Regions from separate parts of the Homo sapiens genome. Here region 2 is linked to region 1. Evidence: fine-mapped expression QTL. A gene starts in region 1. The other region holds a variant in brackets. All regions are shown on one strand. Distances are between the middles of the regions. Region 1 holds the start of RDH11 (retinol dehydrogenase 11). Region 2 overlaps ZFYVE26 (zinc finger FYVE-type containing 26).

The links.
Region 2: its variant is fine-mapped to the expression of RDH11 in whole blood (TOPMed, PIP 0.93).

What each region holds. Positions count from the first base shown.
Region 1 is chr14:67,694,556-67,697,588 of GRCh38, reverse strand. RDH11 (retinol dehydrogenase 11) reads left to right here and starts at 1,825. Exons shown (of 7, transcript NM_016026.4): 1 at 1,825-1,959. The coding sequence starts at 1,886. It also overlaps a transcript of GPHN not described here. RefSeq lists enhancers at 1,508-1,557, 1,578-1,627, 1,672-2,308 and a silencer at 2,658-2,717.
Region 2 is chr14:67,770,550-67,773,049 of GRCh38, reverse strand. It overlaps ZFYVE26 (zinc finger FYVE-type containing 26), which reads left to right. Exons shown (of 42, transcript NM_015346.4): 28 at 840-1,003. Among named protein-coding and RNA genes, the nearest start is that of ZFYVE26, 45 kb to the left of the region's middle. The variant T/G (reference allele first, on the strand shown) is at 1,313.

The DNA.
Region 1 (3,033 bases):
AGTACCTACCTCTTAGAGTTGTTATGGGAATTAAGAGTTAATATATATATATAAATCATTGGGACAGGGCCTGGCCATAATTAAGCAGTATTTAAGCACTGGCTATTATTGCCATTTCTGGCACTCTCCCTTCTCCCTAGACGGTTTTCTGTTGCTCTAGTGCACCCTGCTTTCTCTGACTGTGAACCCTCAGGTGGGGTCTTTCCTCTGCTCAGCACACTCTTGTCTATGTTGCTTGCCTACTAACTTCCCTCTGGCCTCCGCTCAAATGTTATTTCCTCAAATAAGCCTCTCCTGATCTAGAACTCCTCTCCCTTGTAAAAGCTCCCAGAGCTTTCTCTAATCCTCCTCATAACCTTCACCATGATTTATTTACAGTGATTACTTATTTAAGGTCTTCTCTGACAGTCCATGAACTCCGGGCGAGCAGAGATTATGTGTTCCTGGCTTCCTGCTGGACATCAGCACAGTGCCTAGTACACTATAGGAATGCCATAAATGTTTGTCAAATGCGTGAATGACTGAATAAGGAACAAAACAAATGAAAGGCTTTTATAAAGTTATAAAACCCAATACAAATATTAGGTAACACAATAATGAGAATGTGACAAAATGTGATGATTGCTAGGTAATCTAATGTTAAATTGGTAGGAATTAGTATTGTGTGAAGGAAACCCTCTCTTCTCCAATTTGCTATAAAATATATTAGTTCATTGGAACCCGTGTCTTTTAACCAAATGGAAATTATGCAAAAGGACCAGAAAATATTACTGGGTACAATTAAGGAATCACAGACAGATATTGATTGGTTAAAACACCCTCCACTTTCACCCCCAGGAAATAGGCCTCAGATGAAAGAAACTATTGAACAGGGAACCTATTTATTCACAGAGAACATATTCATGGCCTTAATTCAAGACAGGATTAAATACTTTCACGAGTTGGCAAAACCAACTGTGCCAATCTGAGATATTCATTGCTACCCTGGGAGTTAATGTATGTGACCCAAGCCATCAGGAAGACGATATTCTATTATCAATGAACACTCAAACACTAGAAAAATCATGATAGTTGCCACCATAATTCAAGATAGACACAATAAAGTGATTCTCCTGAGAATGTCTTCAAGGACTTATTGCTTCCTCTTCTCTGGAAAAAGGAATCCTCGAGGAGGAAGGGTTTACATTCCCCCACCTTCCCAACTGTCAGACTTCGGACCGCTCCTCTCCTGTCTAATCCGCCTTTCATTTCCCAGACGCCAACATCTGATCTCCAGGAGAAACAGTGCGGTAACTGCCTAACCAGGATTGGGGAAAACTGAACCAGGCACTGGACTTGGGTCTGGGGAGATAGAGGACTGCAGAGATTTCACAAACACCGCGGTGCCTAGTACACTATAGGAATAAGTGTACTATTCCTATAGTGTATACTTTTTTTTTTCCAGAAAAATCCCTCTGGGGTATGAGCACTATTTTCAGTTCTGGTTCAACTTTTCATTGAGATTCTATGTGGATAAGAGGATCTTGTAGTGAAAAAAAGATAAAAAGCAGTGTTTTCATCTGAGTGTGAGAAACCATGTGTGCCTAGAGGTGGGAGAACTGAGTATTCAGAAGGCAGAAAAAATAACTGAGAGCTGGGTGAATGATCCCACAGGCCCTAAGCCCTAGATGGTTGGGGATTAGCGATGTATAATTCAACTTCTGCCAGCGTTGGCGGCAGCGCTCCCACGTAGCCAGCCTGAGGCTGTCAAGCTCTGGACTACATTTCCCAGAAGGTCTGCTCCCCGGGCTGTCGCAATTTGAATTGGGGCGTGTCTAGAAAGAGAAGCCATAGTCGGCGAGCAACGCTGGAGCATCCCGCTCTGGTGCCGCTGCAGCCGGCAGAGATGGTTGAGCTCATGTTCCCGCTGTTGCTCCTCCTTCTGCCCTTCCTTCTGTATATGGCTGCGCCCCAAATCAGGTCTGTGCAAATGTATTGCCTTCTCTTGAGAATTCTTGTTGCGGGGCGGGAGGGAAACATAGAATCCCCACCAAAGCTTTCTTGGAAAACTCCCCTGGGGGGGCTCCAAGATGGCGGAGCCCAGAGTTCGGTGGGTTGGAGGCGAGGTCCAGCTGTCCTGGGTGCCAGGAGGACACCCGAGACCCCAGGCGGTGAGAAAGGGCGGCAGTCCGGGGCACACTGCTTTTCCCTGGCCTGTTTTTCTTTTGTCTAAGCACCCCCTGATTCTGGCTCCAGGGAATCCCGAGGGTAAGGCTACCTCAAACGCTTGAGTTTCGGACTCTTCAATGGGATATGGCCCGACGCTGTTTTCCCCTTATTCCCCACGCCTTAAACCAGCCTTCGAGGTACAAAGGAGCGATTCCACATTTCGCCCTCTGAAACTGATAGCAATCGTAACATCTGCGGCCCCATCCTTGCTCTCTCGTTGCTGTTACAATCGCTTGTTCTGTGGGCGGATGTTGTAAAGGAGAAAAGTGAAAAGGAAGAGTGTTTGGTTATGAGCTCTATCCTGCCTTGCGAGCAGGAGCACGGGGGATCTGAGTTAGGAGCTAGGGTACTGGGGCGGTGAGGGCTGGGAGAATGGTGGGAAGGTATTGACCAGGTGATAGATCAATCAGCCCAAGGCTGGCCAAGTGCCCCAGTGAATCAGCAGCGGGCTGTAAAACCGGCAGCCTGCTTATTGGTTCTAAGTAAATCACCAGTGGTGACGGACCAGTGACTGAATAGACAGACACACTCCTTCCCCAGGTGGGCGGTCTTAGTCCCAATAGAACTTGAAGCCAGGCCAGATCACAGTCATTTCTTACCACAGTCACCTACTTTCCTTCTTTTATTTTTATTTTCTCTTCCTTCTCTGGTGCCCCTCTTCCAGTTATATTTTTTCTGCCTTCTGAACACTCAGTTCTCCCACCTCTAGGCACACATGGTTTCTCACACTCAGATGAAAACACTGCTTTTTATCTTTTTTTCACTACAAGATCCTCTTATCCACATAGAATCTCAATGAAAAGTTGAACCAGAACTGAAAATAGT
Region 2 (2,500 bases), 76 kb before region 1:
TGTTTTTTCCAGACTCAAGATCTAAATAATGTCCATACATGGCATGGCATTTGGTGAAATATCTCTTAAATCTTTTTTTCTTTTTCTTTTTTAAGAGAGTCTCCCTCTGTCATCCAGGCCAGAGTGCAGTAGTATGATCATGGCTACTATAACCTTGAACTCCTGGGCTCAAGCAATCCTCCCACCTCAGCCTCCCTAGTAGCTGGGACTACATGCACACACCACCATGTCTGGCTAACTTCTGTATTTTTTTCTTTTGTATAGATGGAGTCTTGCTATCCATCTATGGAGACAGCCTAGTTGCCCAGGCTGGTTTTGAACTCCTGGCCTCAAGTGATTCTCCTGCCTCACCCTCCCAAAGTGCTGGGATTACTGGCATGAGCCACTGCACCAGCCTCTTAAAGCGCCTTTAATCAATAGGTTCCCTGCCTCTTTTCTTGTTTATCCCCCCTACCTCTTTTTTATTTGTGGAGGAGTCTAGTCATTTGTTCCCCGGAGCTTCCCACATGCTGGATTTTGCTGACTGCCTTCCTGTGGCAATCTGCGTCTTCATCCCCAGAATTTCCAGGACACTTGTAGTTAGGTCTAGAAGCTGGACTTGATTCAGGCTTAATATTTTTTAGTAAGTATACTTGATAGCAGGTGGTGTACACATCCATCAGGAGGCACACAATGTTCAGTTGTCTCTCTTTTATGACACAAACAGTCACTGATGATCATTAACTGGATCTATTCTTTCAATAACGGTTTGTAAAATGGTAAAATTCTATCATTCCCTCTTCATCTATAAGCTGGTATATTGATTACCTTTTACTCTGACCTCTGGCTCTGCCTCCCAGGTATCTCCAGTATACATTCCCCTAGTCTAAGGGAAAGGAGTTTCCCACCAACCCAGCCCTCACAGGAATTTGTGCCCCCAGCGACACCCCCTGCCAGGCACCAGTGGGTACCGGATGAGACTGAGAGTATCTGCATGGTCTGCTGCAGGGAGCACTTCACCATGGTAAGCAGCATCGGTCTCCACTGTCACCCTCAGGAGAAGGTAAAGGAGAATTCTAGTTCATGAGCCTGAGTTTACAATCACCGCCTGTCCCCAGGAGAATATCGGTATTTTCAGAACTGCCAAATCTAAGACTTTGGGTTCATTTTTGACCTGACCAGAATGTATTTTCTGGATTCAGACAGGTAGTAGACACCCTCAAACAGCCATAAATTCTAAAATCTTTGCCATTGTCATGAGATAATAAAAAAGAGGCAGGAGGAGTCAACAGGTGTCAGTGGATCTTGTTTCTGGCTCCCATGTCTTTGACAG[T/G]AAGACTGGTGACCCAGCAGTGGTTATATGCACTGACTCAGGAGACAGAGGGCCTGGGTTCTAATCCTGGCTCTGCCTCTTAATGACAGTGTGACTATACACTATTTTGGTCTCATGTGCCTACTTGTAAACTAAGGATGATATATTCTTAGGCTCATGGAGCTGTTAGGATTAAATATGATAATATGTGTCACCATACTTAACGCAGTACCTGCCCAGTATGCCACATCAGCTCAACGCTGATGAAAACGATGGTGATGTAATTGCTCTGTGTCTGTTTCCTCCTCATCTATAAAAGAGGTGTAATATTTCTATTAGAATGAAATGAAGCAGTACTTTAAAGTCACTTTGATGCCCATCCACTGTAGACTGGATAAAGAAAAGTGGTACATATACACCATGGAATACCATGCAGCCATAAAAAAGAACAAGATCATATCTTTTGCAGGAACATGGATGGAACCAGAGGTCATTATCCAAAGCAAACTAACACAGGAATGGAAAACCAAATACCACATGTTCTCAATTTTAAGTGAGAGCTAAATACTGAGAACACATGGACAGAAAAAGGGGAACAACAGACACGGAGTGTACTTGAGACAGAGGAGGGTGGAAGGAGGGAGAAGTTCAGGGAAGAAAAACTGCTAGGTACCATGCTTACTACCCAGGTGACAAAATAATCTGTACACTAAACCCCTGAGTCACGAGTTTACCTATGTAACAAACCTGCACATGTGCCCCTGAACCTAAAATAAAAGTTGATTTAAAAAAAAAAAAAGATATTAGGAAAGCAGAGTCAGGTATTTTCCTTATTTAAACTTACAAATCTTCAAGGAGGACAATTGGTTGTGGCTTGTTGAGACATATGACAAGCCACCAAAAGGAGTTTTGCATGACAAGCTGCTCTCTAGCTTTGAAACCACCATATAGAAGGTTTACTTACATATAGGGTAGATTATAGAAAGAGTTTCTAATCTTTAAATTCTAATAATGACAACAGTTGGCCTTTATTGACTGCCTACTGTATATGTTCCAGGCATGATACTAAGTGCTTTGCTTAAGTTATCTCTCTTAAATTTTACAATAACCTGATGAGCTTGGTAATATTATTACTATATTACACACATCAGAATATGGATGTATAGAGAAGGTATATAATTTGGAGAAGACTGATGAGACATTCTGAAT